Regions from separate parts of the Homo sapiens genome. Here regions 2 and 3 are each reported to be linked to region 1. The links are microRNA targets in miRTarBase. Many come from high-throughput screens and were not tested one by one. Region 1 holds a microRNA gene; each other region holds the end of a gene's coding sequence.

Region 1 (7,116 bases):
AGAGTCCTCCCCAAAGGCAGAGTCCTCCCTGGGCACCCAGGGGCCTCCGGGGAGGGCCCTCCCAGCCCCAAGCTCTGGCCAGCTGGGCCTGGGACCTCAGGAAGGAGCAGACAGCACGAGGCTCTGGGAGCTGCTGATACTGTCTGCGGGTGCCTTCCCTTCCCAAAAGCCATGCCCAGCTCTTCCTGGGTGCGATGCCTCCAGTTCACAGGGACAGAGGCTGCTGGTTGGCCAAGGACAGTGGGCAAGGCCAGGGCCCCTCACAAAGCCCTGTGCTCCTGTCCAAGAGCCTCCCTTGCTGGGGCCCAAGCCCAGCCACCCCGAGGTCAGCATCCTGCCCGGGGGCATCAAAGGCAGGAGCAGGGCTGCAGAGAGCACGGGAGGCCTCTGCAGTCGGACGTGCACGGCGGGGCTGAGTCAGCACAAAATCCCTCAGGTTGCTGGGTTACCCTTCATGCGAAGGTGGCAGCGACTCACGGCATTGCACCGCCCCGCCCACCTCTGGCCATCCCTGCCCAGAAACCCTTCAGGCCAGCACTGCCCAGCCACGCCCTGGCCCTGAAGATGGCTCGGGCCACTCAGGTTCTCTCATTTTTACTTTAGAGCATTTTTTGGGTAAAATTTGCAATTCGAGTGATGTTCATTTTGATTGACTCCGGCTGCGGCATCTAAAATATCTGTCCTGTGGGTCAATCTAATCATGCTTGATAGCAGTTTATTCTTCGACGCAACGTTCCCCATGTGAGCCCGACAGTTTCACAGAGACTGCCGACGCACCTCTCGCGAATGCTCTCACCAGCCGCTGCGCCTGCTTTGAATGCTTGTGCAATAAAACACTGTATTGCACTTGAATGCACTACTAAGCCAGAATCACCAAAGGCCCCCTCTTTAGAAGGGGGTGCCACTATGTCCTCGGCCCCCTGGCTGCAGAAATGCAAGACCACTCATCGTGACACACGCGTGCAGGCACAGCAGCGGGGCCGTCCCTTCCCAAAGACCGTCCTTCTCCTGCGTGCAAGCTCCAGGACCCAGAGCCGGTCTCACTCACGGGTGGAAACAGTGCCTGGAGCATAGCTAGCTTTTGTGAGCCATAGGATAGAAAAAGGTAACTAATTTGGTCCGCTGAATTTATGAGCTCCACAATTTCTGCAGCGGCTGTTTCCACGAGCGGGAGCCTGGCCCAGCCTCTGATCACCGTGGGGCAGTTTCCAGAGTGTTCTGGGAAACCCAGAAGCCTACACCTGGTGCTACCTGCTCTAGGGAGTGAGAGACACCGGCACTGGCCACCTCCTCATGGCCACACAAACCCACCTGGGTTCCCGAGCTGGCAGGCGAGGGGGTGGGTGTCCCATGTCCAGCCCCCTCAGCCCAGTCCAGGCTCATTTCCCTCTGAGAGTCCCGGCCCCCATGGTAGCGTGCCTAAGCCGTCTCAGGAGAGTCCCTGCGGGCAAGACATAGCCAGTGAGGGTCTGTGCCCCCGCCCTGCCTGCTCTCCCCTCCTTCAAACGGACAGGCACAAAGACCCCCACAGGGGAAAGTCCCAGCGTGTCCATGCCCCACGCCAGTTTGGGGTTCCCGTCCTGGCTGCTGCCCGGGAGCCAAGCTTTAGAGATTCACGCATGGGAGACTCCAGCCCCGGGTCCCAGTGTCTCCAGGAAAGCAGCAGGATCCCCAGGGAGCACCATCAGGCCACACGTGCAGGGGAGAGGGGCTCGGGCTGCCATGGGCGGTGTCCGTGCAATGCTCATTTTTAATTCAGCAGATCAGAGACTGGAGGTGATTTACCGCCAAGCAGGCCGCAGCTCTCTCCCTGTGAACTCTCCAGTTTTACTGCTCAGTCAAACCTAATTCCAAAACACTAATGCTTTTATTTAAACACCACATCCTGCAATAAAGCTTTAATGTACAACAGCCGCATCTAGGGGAAAAGAACGGTGTGTCTGTGGCCACCGGCAGCCTCGGTGGCCACACGCCCGGCTACTTCCCTCCCTGTGGCCGGAGCTGGGAGCAGGCAGGGAAGAGATGACGTCAGCGGATGCTGGGCACTGACCCTCCGGGTCCAGAGGCCGAGAGGAGGCTGTGCCCGAGGTCAACACCCGCCCCCTTGCTGCTACGCCAGATGGGGCTGAGGCTGGGAGAACGAAGTTTCCAGAAGGAAGACCTGAAGGCCAGGAGCCCTGACTGCCAGGCCCTCCCCTCCAGTCACCTCGAGGCTCCCTGAGGGGTGGGAGCCACCTGAAAGCTCAGAACGGCCCCCAATCCCTTTATCCAGCGCTCCCTATGCTGGCCCCAGCTGCTCAGGTGACCTGGCTGCCCCCAGACCCAAGGCCTCCAGCCGCTGCAGGAGGGGGCTGCCTGCCTGTCCCTTCCCGCCTCATTCCTGCCGAAGGCCAGGGTGCGGGAGGTAGGGCACAGGGGCACCGCTGTGGCTGGAGCAGTGCCAAGGCAGAGAGGACACACACCCCAGAAATTAATCCTGAGGCCTGTGGCAGGGTGGGGGTGCCCAGGCAGGGACCTGGCCTCATCCCAGGTGGCAAACGCCTCCAATCTGAGACTCAGAAACGAGCCGGGCAAACGCCCCTCACACAGCAGCCCAGCCGCTGCCTAAGACCCCAGAACCCGCCGCCCATCCTCTCCTTGAAGGACCAGCACTGGGGAAAAGGGTTTCACGGACGGATCCGGACCTGCCCTCATCCCCTGGGCCCCAGGACATCCTCCCAGTCCTTTCTCGGGTCAGGACTGGGATGGCGGCAGAGCAGATGGCTCTCAGGCCCCCGACAGGTGGGGCAAGGGGCCCTGGGCCACACGCTGCTTTCTGCCAAAGCCTCACCTGCATTCACAGCAAAACATGCCTCAGGTTGGATTCGGCGGAACAGAGAGAAAGCTGAACCGGGGCTTTGGTGGGGGTACAGGTTGGGGCGGCATGAACCAGACATTTGGCAAAATCGAACGGCTCCCAGGCCCCTGGGGTGGGCTGTGGGTTCAGGGCTGCACAGACTCAGCTCCTCTGACCCTGTCCCAGGTGCCCTCGGCAGAGGAGTGGGGCCTAAGGGCAGTGGTGGCCCTGACCCTGCCCGCGTCCCCAGCATCTCGTGTGGGCTGCGCCTTCCTTGGAGGCTACATGCCTCCGAGTTCCTCTGCCTTGCCCTACAGCCGGGAGGGCTGGATGCAGGTGCAGGAGGTGCCTTCCCTCCGCAGACTCTACCATGTGCTGCCCAGCCTCTCCCTCCTTTCTGCATCCAGCCACCTGCCCTTTTCCAAACTCGCTCTTGTCTTGTGCCTCTGAGCAGTTTCTGCCCTGGCCACACGTGGCCCTTTCTGCCGGCTGATGGCCTCTTCCAGGATGGCCATCAGTGGAGCCCCCAGAGCCGCCGCCACCACTCCGTGCTTTCCAGCCACGGCCCCGACCCCCCAGCCCTCACCAGCCCCGCGCTGGACCCCGCGCCTGCCGGAGGCCGCCTCCCCTCTGCCGCAGTCAGCAAGCTGAATATTTAATGTCTGGTGAGCACTTCCACCTGCTGACACAGGCAAAGTGACAGAACAATGCTGGCGGGGACACGACCGTCCACCAACGCCCAGGCAGCCTGCCGCCCCAGCCTCACCCCCACCACAGCCGCCTGGCTGGCTGTCGGCCGCGGCGGCCCCCGTGGTGTGGAGTGCCCCTCAGTGCGGCGAGAGAGGTCCCGGCCTGAGATACATACTTCTTTACATTCCATAGCTTAGCAGGTCCATATGGGCATATAAAGAAGTATGTTTCCCAAGCAGGCAGTCTGCATGCAGTTCCAAGACCCCGGGACGCCGCCCCGGTAGAAGCTGACCCCACTGCGATGTAGAGAAGGCAGCTCAGAGGCAGTGTAACTTCTTCCCTGGAGTCTACTGCCGGAGCCCTCTCTGTGTGAGCAGGACAGCCTTCCTGCCACTGCTGCCTGGTGTCCAGCCACCCCCAGGGGCCCAGGACTCCCTGCCCCCTTCTGACCTCGGCGCCCCTCCATCCCTGAATCCATCTCTCTCTGTCTGTCTCACACACTCACACGATCCAGAAAGGCAGAAGTGGACAGTGAGCCCCAGAAAGTCTCGAGCGCCTGTCCCTGGCCCCAGCAGTAGCTCGGTTTTGCGTCCATGGAAGAGACAGGCTGCCCCTCCACCCTCACCCCAGAGCAGGGAGGCATCATCCATGTCCCAAACTTTCAAAGCCAACACTTTCCTGTCCCCCTGGGTCACCTCATCCCAGCCAAGCCCAGAGAGGGCTGGGTGGAGAGAGGAACCTTGGGGGGCGCCCTGCCCAGCACCCCACTCGCAGGACCAGCCTCCTCCTTCTCCGGGAGCTGGACAACTCCTTGCTCCTGAGGCCAGACGAGGAACTGCAGACCAGAGACCCGAGAGGTGTCCTGGGGGCTTACCTGGGCATCTGCTGGTTTCCTGGGCAGGTCCCTGGTGAAGGCTGCCTCCCGGGACCCCGTATCCATGAGGAAGGGCTCAGCACCTCTCTCCGAAGATGCAGGCGAGAAAGACGATGCTTGGAGGAGTCCAGGTTCCCAGAGGGTGGTCAGGATCTCCTGAGAGGCCGTCCACTAGGGGGGCAACTCCCTAGGTGCCTCAGCCTGGCCACAGCAGACACCCAGTGGGCGAGGGAGCGTCGCTCCCCCGGTTCTCTCCCTCCTTCTCTCGCTCTTCTTCACCCTCTCCCCCGTCCCCGCCTCGCAGCGTCACCACCCTGAACCGCCGCGCAGTGCGGCCCACCTGAAGCGGCAGCTGCGCAGAGCCAGCAGCTTACATGGGCACCGGGGGTCAGCAGCCACCGTCACCTGCCCAGCGCCACTGCCGTGGCACCCCCGGGAGGCTGGTCCCACACCTGGCTCTTTGTGGCCAGCCGCCCAGCCTCCACCAGCCCCTGATCAATACCAATTTACAGTCAAATGCAGGGGGCCGCCTTCCTGTTAATGAATTTCCCGGTGCTCACCAGCTCCTAATGAGCCTGTTAAAGAGGGTTTAAGTAAACTTAGCGAGTGGCAAACTAAGCACTTTGGAATACTTAATTGTATCGATATGTTTTTCATTGCGTTTAAAAATGTCTCTGAGTGGGAAGCAGAGGCTGCCTCCTTCCCTGCCAACTTCTATGACCAGCCGTGAAGCCAGACTCTGAAAAATGTGGAGAAAGAGCCAGAAGGAGACCAATGGGACCTCAAGGTTAGGCCCTCACCAGCAGGAAGGGAAGCCGCCCCGAACCTGCTGGGAGCGGGGAGAGGAGGAGGAGGAGGAGGAGGAGGCCTGCAGGGTTTCGAGGCCTCGCAGTGGCCCAGGGCGAGCCTGGCACGTGCGGTGGTGAGAGGTGGAAAGAAGGCTTTGCAGGTGCCTGGGGGGGACGGGGGCCAGGGAGGCGCCAGTTGGGGGTGCAGGCCGGGCACAGACACAGGAGGCTTGCTAAGCGGTGGGGTCCAGCTGGGCCCTGGCCCCTGTCCTGCCACTGACCCTGGCGTGGGGTGGGACAGCAGCCCCGGGACATGAAAGGACCTCCCGTTGTCCTCATCAGGAAGAGAGGTCCAACATGACTCTGTTGCTCCTCCAGGCAGCCCGTCCATGCGAGGGGACAGCCCGGAGCGAGTTGGTTCTCTCTTACCACCCAGGGCAGGGCAATGTCTCCGCAGAGCCTGCAGTGTGCAGAGGCCACTGAGCATGCTGTGGCTGTGTGGCAGTGGGTCTGCAGCTGGGCATGGCTGGGTTGGAGTTTCACGTGGGGGTGGGTGGGGGCGGGGGGTGGGGGTTGTGCTTAAGGCTCTGGAGGCATCCCCTCTACAAAGGAAGGAGCAAATGGCAGACAGAAGCAGAAGCTGATGTCCCATTTCCACGTAGCTGCTGTGATTTATCATTTTCACGTAGCCAAGGATACAAAAAGGGCACCCGACACCGCAGCCTGAGCTTCAACTTCGGGGGCACCTGGGTTCCGCCGCTCATCTGTGCCCTCCCAAGACCTCCGCAATAACCGTCCCCGGAGTCCAGGGAAAAGGCCTCCTCAACGTCCCCAGCTCCCTGGCACATGAGCTCTCAGAGCCTGGGACACTCCCGCAGCCTGGCTCAAGCCCCCACGACCTGTGAGGCATTCATCTGGACGGGGTCTGGGGGTCAAGGGGAAAGCTGGGAGTCCCAAAGGGCAGGAGAGTCACCCCAGACCCAGCCAGAGTCCACAGGACTTCTGCCCACTCACAAATGAATTGTAGTCACTTTTCAAAAAGTTTCCCGTCTGCATAGAAAAAGAGCACCCAGCCGCCTCCAAGCAGACCCCACCGTGAGCCGAGCTGGCTCCTGTGCCCGGGGCCTCCTCCGGGGCTCTTCAGCGGTGAATACCGCCCGGCCCCCGGCATCAGCGCCGCGGGAGGCCACGCGGGAAGTCAAGCTCCCCAGCAGGGACCTGCACAGACGCCGACCACCAGGGCTGCTCTCCCCGAAGCCCCCCTAGTCTCCGCCCACATGTGCCCCCCGCCCCCCACCTCGCCGCCCTGCCCCTGTAAACGCCTCCTGACCCTGACGTGGCTGGGAGAGCTGCAGAAGTGCCGAGTCCCGGCCGGGGGCAGCCTCGCCGCCGCTCAGCTCGGGAATCCCTGCCCCCCACCAGCACCTCAGTGGGGGATACTGCAAGTTCAAGGTAAGTTTAGCCCCACGCCCGGCTGCCGGGGCTTTGTTGCGGAGCGGCAGGTGAATCGCGCCCCCAGCCCAGCCCCGAAGCCCCCATGCCATCCACTGCCCGCGTGGGGGGCCGCTGCTTTCTTGCAAAATGCCCGCAAGTCAAAGTTCCTGCCTCCCAGCTGGACGCGCCCTCCAGGCCCTGCCGGCTGCTGGCTCTGCAGTTTTCCAAATGTGGATGATGCCGCGAGCCAAGAGAAAACTCCACGGCACCCCCGCCGGAGCCGCACGGCGCCGGCACCCGCAGCACCCACCTCGCTGGCAGGCACACCCCCCACCGCGGTGCCCGGCAAGTTTGCAGGGGCCGTCCCGGCGGCCCAGCGGTGGTGATGGGCTGAGCAGGACTCACCGCGGAGCCCAGGGCACCCCTGGGGCCGGGCTGGTGACAGCGGCAGCGGCGGCGGGCGCAGGGTCGCGGCTCCCTAGGAGATGCTGCAG
Region 2 (7,116 bases), not on the chromosome of region 1:
AAGCGAGTCCCTTTTTGGAATGTGTAGTGTTCACTGGGTTTTGAGTATTGCCCATTTTATGTCAGTTAATCATCTGTATCATACCCAAGTTCTTTTTTTTCTTTTTTAGAATTTTATTTATTTTATTTATTTTATTTTTTGAGACAGTGCCTTGCTCTGTTGGGCTGGAGTGTCTGTCGCCAGGCTGGAGTACAGTGGCATGATCTTGGCTCACTGCGACCTCCACTTCCTGGGTTCAAGCGATTCTCCTGCCTCAGCCTCCTGAGTAGCTGGGACTACAGGCATGTGCCACACCACGACAGGCTAATTTTTGTATTTTTATTAGAGATGGGGTTTCACCATGTTGGCCAGGATGGTCTCGATCTCTTGACCTCATGATCTGCCCACCTCGGCCTCCCAAAGTGCTGGGATTACAGGTGTGAGCCACTGCATCCAGCCTATACCCAAGTTCTTTTGCATTAGTTCCTTGTGTGATTAATACAGCAGCCTTAGCACATTTTTTTTTTTTTTTTTGGCTTGGTCTTTTTCATTTATGAAAAACTATGATATGTCTAATCATATCATTCAAACCTAGTTATGTGCTTGCTGAAAAGTGAAGAGTAACTTCATTTTTAGGAGTAAAAACAAAGCAAGCTTGCAGCTCCAAGCTTCCCTTTCTTTTTTTTTTGAGACGGTGTCTTGCTCTGTCACCAGGCTGGAGTGCAGTGGCGCGATCTCCGCTCACTGCAGCCTCCGCCTCCTGGTTCAAGCGATTCTCCTGCCTCAGTCTCCCGAGTAGCTGGGACTACAGGTGCGCACCATGATGCCCAGCTAATTTTTGTATTTTTAGTAGAGACGGGTTTCATAATGTTGGCCAGGATGGTTTCAATCTCTTGACCTCGTGATCCACCCACCTCGGCCTCCCAAAGTGCTGGGATTACAGGCATAAGCCACCGCTCCCAGCCCAAGCTTCCCTTAGTTGAGCAAGTTCTGTTAATTTTGTTTTGCCAGGCTGCACTTTGCCCATACATACGGCAAGGGATGTTTAAACGTTTATCTTTGAGCATGTACGTTTTACTATTTTTCTTTAGATTGGGATGCTTGGAAGGTGTGTCTACGACTTCGAGATAATGGACTTCTGGCCAAGCCAACCCATGGCGACATTATCAGGTTTGCGCCTCCGCTGGTGATCAAGGAGGATGAGCTTCGAGAGTCCATTGAAATTATTAACAAGACCATCTTGTCTTTCTGAGGGTAGCCAGCTGTTTTCAGTGGTCCCTGGGAGCCAGCTGGAGACAGGTGGTCCTGTAAAAGCTTTATTCCTAATGTGGGCACATTCCACTCCCATGAGTCTTCAAAAACTTTTTTTTTGAATATATTTTTTTCAGTTGATACATAATAGAACAACGTTTATGAACCTGCCGTTTGCTTTGTAACGTAACTAAATAATGTAATGGCATCTATATTCAGTTGAAGTGTTTTGATGTGCATGTGTACTTCCTAAGGTGAAATGCATCTATATACAGACAGCCTCTAAATCAAGTCCTTCAGTATAATTGATATATGTTTTTATAATTTCCTCACTGGTATAAGTGTTTCATATTTGAAAAAGTTATCTCTGGGTATTGCATAAAAGGCTTCATCTTATAAAGTGAAATCATTGTTATTGAATTTTAGGAAGGATTAATGGTTAAGTGTATATAAAATACTAATATTAAGTAAACTTCATATTGGCCAACACCAGGGTTGTATTCTATGGATGTCATTATTTTGAATTAAGAATTAGTGTTTAACATTCCTAAATTGTTTTGAGTGCTTGATTATAATTTGTAAAAAATGTTTATTTTCAATACTTCTTTAAATTTAAAATAAAGCTTATATTTCAAATGTCTGTTTTGTGATGATTATTCACCTTAAAAGGAAGAAGCTGAGGCAAAATTAATATAGAATGTTTAGGTGGGCCAAGGTTGGGGACTGCAGCTCGGGACACACTTCCAGGTTGCCCTGGAGAGTGCTCCAGAGAACACTTCTTAAAGAAAAAAGGATAGATCAGCTGCTCTTATACCCTCTACTGACACAAGGTGAAGGGGTGATTACAAAAGTTGTTTATCAGGAATTCTCATTGGCTTACAGAACTAACCTTGGTTAGTGATTGGCTATATGCTGTTGAACTACAGGGTATATGGCATTTGATAGATACTTGGCTTCAAGAGGTAATTATGTAGCTTGGGAGAGAGTGACCTGACTATGATTTCATTCTATTGCCTCTCTGGGCCTGATAATTTAGTTTTTATTTTTTGAGATGGAGTCTCTCTCTGTCGCCCAGGCTGCAGTGCAGTGGCACGATCTCAGCTCACTGCAACCTCCACCTCCTGGGCTCACATGATTCTCCTGTCTCGGCCTCCCGAATAGCTGGGATTACAGGTGTGCACCACCACACCCAGCTAATTTTAGTATTTTTAGTAAAGATAGGGTTTCATTAAGTTGACCAGGCTGGTCTTGAACTTCTGGCCTCAGGCGATCCCCCCAACTTGGCCTCCTAAAGTGCTGGGATTACAGGCATCAGCCCCTGTGCCTGGCCTGGGCCTGATAATTTAAAGGGGCTCACGTTCTTCAGTTACAAGATTTCTTTATTCCCCATGTCACTATGCTATTACTGCAGTGTTATCAGTTACATTTTTTTTTTTTTTTGAGATGGAGTCTTGCTCTGTTGCCCAGGCTGGAGTGCAGTGGCGCAATCTCGGCTCACTGCAAGCTCCGTGTCCTGTGTTCACGCCATTCTCCTGCCTCAGCCTCCCCAGTAGCTAGGACTATAGATGCCCGCCACCACGCCCGGCTAATTTTTTGTATTTTTAGTAGAGATGGGGTTTCACTGTGTTAGCCAGGATGGTCTTGATCTCCTGACTTTGTGATCCACCTGCCTCGGCCTCCCAAAGTGCTGGGATTACAGGCGTGAGCCACTGCGCCCAGCCTATCAGTTACATTTTTAAGCTTTTTGAGATTTATTTATTCCATGTGTTTTCTTTTTTTTGTATTCCTTTTTTTTTTTTGAGACAGAGTCTTGCTCTGTTGCCTAGGCTGGAATGCAATGGCGTGATCTCAGCTCACTGCAACCTCCGCCTCCCAGGTTCAAATGATTCTTGTGCCTCAGCCTCCCAAGTAGCTGGGACAATAGGCCTACACCACCATGCCCAGCTAATTTTTGTATTTTTAGTACAGATGGGGTTTCACCATGTTGGTCAGGCTGGTCTCGAACTCCTGACCTCAGGTGATCCACCCACCTCGGCCTCCTAAAGTGCTGGGATTACAGGTATGAGCCACTGTGCCCGGCATATTCCATGTGTTTTCTAACAGCATTTCAACTCTGATCTACAGAAAACTAGAAGTTATAAAAAGAATACATCTAAAAGATAGGTCTCATACTTCCCTTTCAAAGTAGCGCGTTCTCTGTGCATATACTAATATTTATCATTTTTTTAAAGTTATCCTTTTTATATGTGGTGTTCTGCAACTTTTTCTTTTTTCTTTCTTTCTTTTTTTTTTTTTTTACCTGAACAGAGTATTTTGGATGTTTTTCCGTCTTATTCTCAAATAATTAGTATTTCATCATATATGGGTATACTGTAATTTCATCTCATATTGGGACCATTTGACTTGAATAAAACTTGTGACCACTTCATATCTTTTCACAATGGTGCAAAAGTGCACAGTGTTTCTATGGAGTAAATCCCTAGAAGTGACTTGCTTTTCAAAGAAAAAAAACTCAAGTTAATTGTGTCACATTGCTCCCTGCCTCCCCCAGGTTCTAAAAAGTTACCTCTTAGCAGTATGAGAGTTGAGTCTTTGGTACTCTGTCAGGGTAGTGCTCTGTCACTGAATGACTACGTTTAAATGAGTGAGCAGTTACTGGGAGGCCTCCTCATACCAATTACAACTGGGGTGGCACCCAGGCCAGGTAAGCTCTCCAGGGCATTCAAGGTTGAGAACCTGTCTTAGGAATCTTATTAAGATGCAGATTTTTGTTTTGGAGACATAGTCTCACTGTCACCTAGGTTGGAGTGAAGTGGTATGATCTCGGTTCACTGCAACTTCCACCTCCCAGGCTCAAGCGATTCTCCCACTTCAACCTCTCTACTAGCTAGGACCATGGCCGTGTGCCACCAGATTTGGCTAATTGGTTTGTATTTTTGGTAGAGACAGGGTTTTGCCATGTTTCCCAGGGTGGTCTTGAACTCCTTAGCTCAAGTGGTCCACCTGCCTTGGACTCCCAAAGTGCTGGGATTATAGGTGTGAACCACAGTGCCCAGCCTTAAGATGCAGATTCTAATTCAGTCTCTCTCTGTGTGTGTGTACTGGAGATTCCACATTTGCAGGTTGCCTTAGGACATACTATTATTATGATGAGTCAGTTTAATTTGCATTCAGTTATTCTCACCAGAGATGACCTTAGGGCAGGTGATTTTTAACAAAGCTATCTTCCTGCTAAATTCTTTGAAGGCTTTAAAAGTCAGAGAGGACCCAGAGGTAGGAAAGTACAGGGAGTTGTGGAGACGGTGGCCAATGACAATGAGGGCCTTTGGGCTTAATTTGGTGAGCAGTGGGGTCACTGAAGAAAGGGGTTGAAGCAGGGGCGTGGCGTGATCCTATTAGAAAATCCTAGGCTGGGTGCGGTGGCTCATGCCTGTAATCCCAGCACTTTGGGAGGCTGAGGTGGGCGAATCACCTGAGGTCGGGAGTTTGAGACCAGCCTGACCAACGTGGAGAAACCCCATCTCCACTAAAAATACAAAAAATTAGCCAGGCGTGGTGGTGCATTCCTGTAATCCCAGCTACTCGGGAGGCTGAGGCAGGAGAATCACTTGAACCTAGAAGGCAGAGGTTGCAGTGATCAGAGATTGCACCATTGCGCTCCAGCCTGGGCAACAGAGCGAAACTCTGTCTCAAAAAGGAACAAACAAAAGAAAATCCTTTCTGGCTGATGGTTTAGGGCTTACTCATGCAGTACACACTGGTTGTAGGGCCTCAGGGCCTATGTCCAGTGGTGAACAGGTGGGCAGGAACCTGCTGACGGCACTTAGTGCCCTGGGGATGAAGTGGAGGGGTGGTGAAGCGGGAGGCAGGGAGAGTCAGACACAGGCTTTGGATTTGGGGTAGAACATCAGGGCAACTGCTGTGGTTAGATACTCCCTTTCCTTAGCTGTGAGGAAGTGGGATGCTATCTACCTTTCAGGGGAGTTAGGAGGATTAAAAAAGATGGAGTAGGTCAAGCTCCTGGTGGAGGACCTGGCACAGAATTACAGATCAATAAATAAGTTGCTAGCTCCCCCTCCCCACCCCCAACACATACAGTTGGAGGAGTTTGGGAGAGAGGAAGCTTCGGGAGAAGGATTCTTTCAGATAAGGGTGACATCTAGATAAGGAAGAGATGGCGTAGAGCTGATAGCCTGGCTGTATCACAAAGGGGATGTCAAGTTAAAGGAAGAAGCTGAGGCAAAATTAATAATCATAAAGTTATTCATGATAGCAGGAGGCAGACAAAATGCCTAGGCTGATAGGGGCGGTCCCCAGTGAAACACCACCTTCAAGCCAAAAACAGCCTGAAGTCTGAAAGACTGAACTGTTGGTTCTGGATGAAACCTGTGACCCAGAGTGAGAACTTCTGTTCCTATTTGCCCACTCTTTCCCGATTGGTTCTTTCTGAATAACGCTTTTTGACCAGTTGAATGTTGCCTTTTCTGATACTACCTATGGCCTGCCCCTCCCCCATCCTGTGCCTATAAAAACCCCAGACTCAGCCACACTGGAGGAGACCACCTTCCCGTCTCCTCTCTGCTGAGAGCTGTTTTGTCGCTTAATAAACTTCTCTGCCCTCACCACCCCTCAGTTGCCAGTGTGACCTCATTCTTCTTTGACGGACAAGAACTCCAGACTCACTGAACATGGGTACTCACAAGGCTGTAACACTGTGGCCCTCTGCCCTTCACTGGCAGAGGGCAGATGCCTCATGTGATGGAAAGTAGTGATGGGGCGGAGCTGGCCCCGGAGCTGCGGGCTGGAATGGGGCAAGGGGCTGACTGAGCTGTTAACATGCCACCGTCTGTTGGGCTATGGATGGTGGGACTAAAAGAGCTAATGAGCACATTGTAACACTCTTTTGGGGCTTTAGGGTCATGGGCACCCCTGCCTGGGCACCACTGCATTCCCCTTGGAGTGACACACCTGGTCCAGCTGCAAACCCCGCATGGAGCCCACCCCTGTGCCAGCATTTGGAATGGCTGGCTGGACCCCACACTTGCTCACTCACATACCCCCTCCCACCAGGGCCTGAGCATGCAGCAGCAGCTGCTGTGGGATCTGCGCCGGAGTGCAAGCCAGATGCGGCCTGGCAGGCCCAGTAGATGGGGTGCCTCCTGCTGCGTGCCTGGCAAAGGGGCCGAGAAAAATCTTCTCATTTGGGCCAAGCTTGAGAACTGCAGCCCAGGATACATCATCAGTTTGCCTTGGGGAGTGCTCTGGAGAATATTTATAAAGAAAAAAAAATCAGGAGAAGGGGTGATTATAAAACTTATTTATTAGGAATTTTCATTGGTCTAGAGAATTGGCATTAGTTACTGATTGGCTATTCATTGTTGAAGTACAGGATGTATGGCGTTTTTGTGGCCATTTGGCTTCAGTTAGTCTAGAGCTGCATGGCAAGGGGCTTCGAGAGGTAATTATTTAGCTCAAGGGGGAGTGAGACCTGACTGCCATTATATTTTAGATACTTTTCTGGGCCTGATAATTTAAAGGGGCTCACATTCTTCAGGTAAAAAGTTATTTTTCTTCTTCGGGGAGGAGTGGTTCAAAGTAGAGGAGAACTCACAGAGTATGTGGTGCCCAGATGCACATTTAGATATGTGCAAAAGAAAGATGATAATCTTGGTACATTTTTGCACTTTAAATAGTCACCACCTTCACTCTCCACACCCCCTAATGATAACTTGTTCTTTGGATTCTGACCTTCCAGAATACCTCATCTAAATTAATTACTGCACATATAAGAAAACTGAGGTTGGGATAGGACATCTGATGTACCCAGAATAACAGAGGTGAAAGTGACAATGCGTTTCAAGCACTAGGACTGTGAAGTTCCCAGCA
Region 3 (7,116 bases), not on the chromosome of region 1:
ACACCAGGAAAGTTTTTACACCATGCTAAGCTTCTGTCTTTTCATCGGCAAAATGGAAATAATGTCTATGTGACAGGGTTATTGTGTGGCTTAAATGAGATACAGGTAAAGTATTGAGCACAGGGCCTGGCACATAGGAAGTGCACCTCAACAGTACCTACCTTTTTCCATATATATGGAAAAAGAGGTAACACATAAAACACTAGGACATGGTTACTGACTACTTGTGGGAGAGAAAAAAAAAGCTAAGGGCAAAGAATCAAGTCTGGTATGTTAGTTTTTACCAACTGAGATGCATCCAAGATGGGATTAGACATACAAGGTAATTTATCAGGGAAGACACCTGTGAGGGAATGTGGAGCAGGCATGAAGGTAGTATGGGAGAACCCACAGAACACTATGCAGAGCTGATTCCTGTGAAAAAGAAAGAGAAAGAAGTTTTAGGTACCAATGCAGTTCTAAGAGTATTTGCAAGGCTGATGGGGAATCCTCCAACCAGCCACCCATTAGAGTTAAATAGAGCCTCAGAGAACTAGGCTTGCTTTCACACCCTTCCTGGGAGCCTGTAGGAAAGAAGCTTTCTGTGTAAAGGAGGTAGTGAATTTGAAATGCACTGACCTGGGCCTTCTGTCAATCAGGTCCCTGCCATGGAGACCTGACAGAGTCTCAGTCATGACTGCAACAACTGAGACACTGAGAAAAAGAACAGGCTGATACCTTCATGAAATTCAAGACAAAGAAGAAAAAAACTCAATGTTATTGGACTAAATAATCAAAAGGATAATGTTTTCATAATTTTTTATTGGAAAATGTGCTGATTCTTTGAATGTTTTATTCTCCAGATTTATGAACTTTTTTTCTTCAGCAATTGGTAAAGTATACTTTTGTAAACAAAAATTGAAATATTTGCTTTTGCTGTCTATCTGAATGCCCCAGAATTGTGAAACTATTCATGAGTATTCATAGGTTTATGGTAATAAAGTTATTTGCACATGTTCCGTAAGAATCTGCTCTCTTTATAACAGGACACATTTGAAAACATTGGTTATATTACCAAGGCTTTGACTGGGATGTTATATTTGAGAATATACATAGAATAAACCCATAGGGAATGCAGGCAAAGTCTGAAGTGGGCCTTGGTTTGGCTTCCTAGTCTCAAGAGGTTTTTGGAAGTTTCATCTGAGATTCTTATTAAAAACTTCTAGCAAAGAGAAGTTTAAAAAGAGCCTCTATGGTCCATTGCTACTCTTGCCGCACTTAGGTAAAAAATCTGGGCAAGTTCGGTGAGACTCAACCTATTTTGCAAGCAAATTCATCTTATTGGAATTATCTTTGGTAAAAATAGAGACTCCGATAGAGAGAAAAACTAGCTGAAAAGAAAAACTGTAGTACACCTGTTACCAGATTGAACCACTGTTCATTATCTTTGAGTATTTATAATCCACTGGTAGACTGGACTGGACCCTGAATTCTTTTAGTTCTTCCAATTCAGTTTTCTCCAATGAAATCATTAAGAACAAGAGCGGCTCTGTTCCTGAAGCCATATAAGGTGGAGGTGGACAACTCAATGTAAATTTCATGGGAAAACCCTCGTGTTTGAGGTGGGGGCCACTAAGAGCTCACCAAATGTTCAACACCATAACTTAGAGACACTCAAACTGCAAACCACGACAAGCTGATGACTTTACACTGTGGACAGCTTTTCTCAAGATGTCAGAACAAGACTATCAGTCATGATGAGACTCTTACCTCTCTTAATTTGTCTTTGCTTTTGCCTGTCTCCTTTGCTTCCCAGAATAATGCTGTACTTAGGATTTCACCAGAAATAGCCTCTGAGAGTAAGTTAACAGTGTCAGATATATCATGTCAACCACACTTCGTTTTTTTTTTTTTAAGATGGAGTTTCGCTCTTGTTGCCCATGCTGGAGTGCAATGGCACAATCTTGGCTCACAGCAACCTCCACCTCCTGGGTTCAAGTGATTCTCCTGCTTCAGCCTCCCCAGTAGCTGGGATTACAGGCATGCACCACCATGCCCAGCTAATTTTGTATTTTCAGTAGAGACAGGATTTCTCCATGTTGGTCAGGCTGTTCTCGAACTCCTGACCTCAGATGATCTGCATGCCTCAGCCTCCCAAAGTGCTGGGATTACAGGCATGAGCCACCGCACCCAGCCCACACATTTTTACATAACAAGACATCCTTTAGTCCACACAAAGGCTGACGTTAGCTGCATCTGTAACACAACTTTTTCCTCAAATGTATGGAGTTTTTTTTAGGCTTCCACTTCTATACTTGCCTATTCTCACTCCCTGTTTTAATTTAACATAGACATGCAATGCTAGATAATAGAATTGTTCTCTACCAGCTGGACAGCGGGGAGTCTGTGCAGTTTCTGACACTTCTTGTTGCACATGGATAAATACATCGGGTATTATAGAGACTCAGTTGTAAAAATCAATAAATGTGCTGCCTGGTTAAAATGACTAGACTCTTCTGGCTTCTTCTTTGATCTATCCTATTGTAGTTGGTTTGCATCTTGCCTAAGGTGCATATTCCAAACTCTTGATATTTTCCTCCTGATAGTCATACTGGTATTCTCCCTCATGTGGTGGAATCTACAGATGTTTTTATTTCTGTGCAAATATTTGTGTGCAGCCATTCTTCAAATATCAAACGGTTTCTCTTGTGCTGGAATTACAAAAACTCAAAGAAATGTGTGATTTATGGGCTGGGTGCAGTGGCTCACATCTGTAATCCCAGCACTTTGGGAGGCCAAGGCAGGCAGATCACAAGGTCAGGAGTTCAAGATCAGCCTGATCAATATGGTGAAACCCTGTCTCTACTAAAAATACAAAAATTAGCCAGGCATGGTGGCGTGCACCTGCAGTCCTGTAGGGAGACCCCCAGAAACTACTGCTACAGAATAAAAGATGAAATGCTCTTGATTATTGTAAATACAAAATTGCACGCAGGATTGTGTAAACACAATGACAGGTTGGGCTGCGAGAATGAGCCTACAGCACGGGATGTGCTTCTGTTACATGGATGGGAGATAGAATTATGAGTTTAGAACATAGATTACAAATGCAACCTGATTGGAACACTTCTGATTTTTGTAAAACTCTGTTCCAATATAAAGAGTCTGGTCACAATCGGGAATCAGTAATATGCCATTTACAAGGAAGTGAAGATAATTTAAGTTTAGACATAAGCAAGCTGAAAGAACAGATTTTTGAAGCTTCTCAAGCACACTTAACTGCTTTACCCAGTGCTGAAGTTTTAGACAGTATCTCTGAGGGGTTATCTAATCTCAACCCCATTCAATAGGTAAAATCTTTGGGAGGATCCACTATCGTTAATTTTGTTCTGTGTATAATTTGTGCTGTTGGTTTATTGTTCATGTGTAAAATTGGAAAAAATGTTCTTCAATCCAATTGTGATCAGTGCCAAGCTATGATTGCTATGGTTCATTTAAATCAGAGAAAAGCAGAGATGTAGGGAGAACCCCTGAACTATTGCTACGGAATGAAAGATGAAATGCTCCTGATTATTGTAAATACAAAGTTGCATGCAGGATTGTGTAAAGACAAATGCCAGGTTGGACTGCCAGAATGAGCCAACAGCACGTGATGTGCTTCCCCCTGCAGAGAGCCTATGAACGGACATGCAGTCAGGGAGGTTTCACATTACCAAGATTCCTATCCCAGAAAAGCAGATGTCCATAGCTCTGGGAATGGAATGTGACCCTTACGGAGAGCCTATAAATGACCCTAAATCCCTCACTAACCTACCCCCACTCTCACTAAACTTAATAATAAATGCTGGTATATCCAGTGCATTGGCAGCATCGCAGGACCAGAAGGCAGTGACCCCTCTGGACCCAGCTTTCACTATCTTGTGTGTGTCTTTTATTTCTCAACCTGCCAATCTGCCTGGGAACAAAGAAAGAGCCCCGTTGCATTGCAGGCTGCTGGCCAGATCCTGCAATATAGTCCCAGCTACTTGGGATGCTGAAGCATCTGTAGAGGGAGAGCTGCCCCAAATCATAAATCACAAATAAAAGCCAATTACATCTATAACTAAATTAGTTGTAATTTTGTCTTATCACACATGTTCACAGGAAGCAATGGCCAGTGGAGTCTCTCAGACTGCATCATTCTCACCCTGACCCTCCTGCCTTCCTCTTTCACTCACAAGGACCCTTATGATGATACAGGGAGCCACCCAGATAAGCCAGAATAAGCTTTCCATCTCAAAATACTCAACTTCATCAACTTTGAACAGTGTTTTTGCCAAGAAAAGTAAATGCATTCCAAGTAAATGTGTTCCAAGAGTTAGGATGTGGATTTTTTTTTTTTTTTTGAGACAGAGTTTCACTCATGTTGCCCCGGCTGGAGTACAGTGGGACAATCTGGGCTCACTGCAATCTCCGCCTCGCAGGTTCAAATGACTTTCCTGCCTCAGCCTCCCAAGTAGCTGGCATTACAGGCGCCCGCCACCACACCCAGCTAATTTTTGCATTTTTAGTAGAAACGGGGTTTCACCATGTTGGCCAGGCTGGTCTCGAACTCCTGACCTCGTGGTCTGCCCATCTCAGCCTCCCAAAGTGCTGGGATTACAGGCGTGAGCCACCGCACCCGACCTGGATGTGGACATTTTTAAGAGGCCATTATTCTGCCTCATACAGGTCACTTTCATAAACATCACCGACAAGAAAAATGTTTTGCCTTCCTTCCATGTCTCACTTTTCTGTCTGCGCAAACCACAGTGAAACACACTAGCTCTGCTATGAAGTGGCTGGATGACCCTGGGCCACTCGTTTGACCTCCTTCAGCCTCTTTCCTCATCTGCAGTGTAAGACTGACTCTTACTGCATCAGAAAATGACAGTGGAAGAGTAAATTAACATGTGTGAGACATTAATCACAGAGCCTGGTACCTGATGAGCCCTTGGTAAACATTCCTTTCAGTTCTTTCCTTTCACCTTCCCATTTTTCTTGCCCTCACCCATCTTCTCCTTCAACTCCTTTCTCTTCAGTAACTTACTCTGTCTAACCTGCCAATTACAGAAGCCACACTACCCATTCTCTCGTGACTCTGCTGGAATGTTCTTGTGATGCAGTCTGCTATCCACTGAAGGCAATGGGTATTATTTATATAGAGAGGTCTGTTTGCAACAAGAAATCCTTTTTCTATTCACACAAAATTTATACACAATTTCTCTTAACTTACACGTACCAGTCTCAATTCTACCCTGTTATTTCATACATGTACTTCATTATTTTATTCTTTGGTCTTTCTCCTTACACCTTAAAAATTAGGACAGTACAAAAACAAAAATAATGACCTGGGCCAGAAGAGGGGATTCCTTTAGCAAGATGAATGCTTTCCTTTTTCAAGATGAATGAATGCTATGTGTAAGGCAGACCTGAAGCCCATTTCTGGGTTTGGCTTACATCAAAGCCATTTGACTCTAGGACACATTCTTAAATTCCCAAGAGATAATGATTGTCACGGAAGCCACACCCACTATGAGCATTCCTACTGTTGGGTAAAGGAATGTTTACAGAATGTTGTGCATTCTGTTTACTCCTCCTAAATTCTTCCACTCCTGGAAGTTAAGCTTCCCCACTAATCAGCTTCATCTCCAGCTGGCCTGCCTGGACCCTGACTGGAAAATACCTCCCCACTCTGGATGGCCAGGGTGGCACCTTTGTCTATTCCCATAATTATAATAGCTCACACTGATGCAGCACTCACTATGTACCAGGCACTATCCTAAGGCCTTTCCAGGTAACTACAGTCCTCACCAAAAAATCCCAAGTGCGGGCCGGGCGCGGTGGCTCATGCCTGTAATCCTAGCACTTTGGGAGGCCGAGACGGGCGGATCACTAGGTCAGGAGATCGAGACCATCTTGGCTAACACGGTGAAACCCCGTTTCTACTAAAAATACAAAAAATTAGCCGGGCGTGTTGGCGGGCGCCTGTAGTCCCAGCTACTTGGGAGGCTGAGGCAGGAGAATGGCATGAACCTGGGAGGCGGAGCTTGCAGTGAGCCGAGATCGCGCCACTGCACTCCAACCTGGGAGACACAGCGAGACTCCGTCTCAAAAAAAAAAAAAAAAAAAAATCCCAAGTGCCACCATCCCCGTTTTTACAGATTAAAAAAAAAACAACTGGGGAAGGAGCCAAGATGGCCGAATAGGAACAGCTCTGGTCTACAGTTCCCAGCGTGAGTGACACAGAAGATGGGTGATGTCTGCATTTCCATCTGAGGTACCGGGTTCATCTCACTAGGGAGTGCAAGACAGTGGGCGCAGGACAGTGGGTGCATGCACCGTGCACGAGCCGAATCAGGGTGAGGCATTGCCTCACTCAGGAAGCACAAGGGGTCAGGGAGTTCCCTTTCCTAGTCAAAGAAAGGGGTGACAGATGGCACCTGGAAAATCGGGTCACTCCTACCCGAATACTGGGCTTTTCCGACGGGCTTAAAAAAGGGCGCACCACGAGATTATATCCCACACCTGGTTCGGAGGGTCCTATGCCCACAGAGTCTCGCTGATTGCTAGCACAGCAGTCTGAGATCAAACTGCAAGGCGGCAGCGAGGCTGGGGGAGGGGCGCCCTCCATTGCCCAGGCTTGCTTAGGTAAACAAAGCAGCCTGGAAGAGGGAACTGGGTGGAGCCCACCATAGCTCAAGGAGGCCTGCCTGCCTCTGTAGGCTCCACCTCTGGGGGCAGGGCACAGACAAACAAAAAGACAGCAGTAACCTCTGCAGACTTAAATGTCCCTGTCTGACAGCTTTGAAGAGAGCAGTGGTTCTTCCAGTACGCAGCTGGAGATCTGAGAATGGGCAGACTGCCTCCTCAAGTGGGTCCCTGACCCCTGACCCCCAAGCAGCCTAACTGGGAGGCACCCCCCAGCAGGGGCACACTGACACCTCACGTGGCAGGGTACTCCAACAGACCTGCAGCTGAGGGTCCTGTCTGTTAGAAGGAAAACTAACTAACAGAAAGGACATCCACACCAAAAACCCAACTGTACATCACCATCATCAAAGACCAAAAATAGATAAAACCACAAAGATGGGGAAAAAACAGAACAGAAAAACTGGA

Evidence for each region. The annotated mature microRNA hsa-miR-1-3p reads UGGAAUGUAAAGAAGUAUGUAU and lies in region 1 at 3,694-3,715, opposite strand. An mRNA with a match to its seed (bases 2 to 7 or 8) in the 3' UTR can be bound and repressed. Matches are read on the target gene's strand: a 7mer-m8 pairs with bases 2 to 8, a 7mer-A1 pairs with bases 2 to 7 and ends in A, and an 8mer does both.
Region 2: the mRNA of OAT is a reported target of hsa-miR-1-3p. Seed matches in the 3' UTR shown: 8mer at 1,313-1,320 and 7mer-m8 at 1,772-1,778.
Region 3: miRTarBase lists PSG9 as a target of hsa-miR-1-3p. The part of its 3' UTR that is shown has no 7-base or 8-base seed match.

What each region holds. Positions count from the first base shown.
Region 1 is chr20:62,550,950-62,558,065 of GRCh38, reverse strand. MIR1-1 (microRNA 1-1) reads right to left here and starts at 3,760; the gene lies at 3,690-3,760. CRMA (cardiomyocyte maturation associated lncRNA) reads left to right here and starts at 6,505. Exons shown (of 7, transcript NR_033263.1): 1 at 6,505-6,640. MIR1-1HG (MIR1-1 host gene) reads right to left here. Exons shown (of 4, transcript NR_171007.1): 1 at 7,028-7,116; 2 at 4,401-4,601. RefSeq lists enhancers at 475-1,346, 6,651-7,116.
Region 2 is chr10:124,392,057-124,399,172 of GRCh38, reverse strand. It overlaps OAT (ornithine aminotransferase), which reads left to right. Exons shown (of 10, transcript NM_000274.4): 10 at 1,071-1,870. The coding sequence ends at 1,231. Among named protein-coding and RNA genes, the nearest start is that of OAT, 23 kb to the left of the region's middle.
Region 3 is chr19:43,247,169-43,254,284 of GRCh38, reverse strand. PSG9 (pregnancy specific beta-1-glycoprotein 9) reads left to right here. Exons shown (of 6, transcript NM_002784.5): 6 at 639-1,003. The coding sequence ends at 676. It overlaps LOC284344 (a long non-coding RNA gene), which reads left to right and starts at 5,639. Exons shown (of 9, transcript NR_033888.1): 1 at 5,639-5,794; 2 at 6,162-6,277. RefSeq lists an enhancer at 3,928-4,428.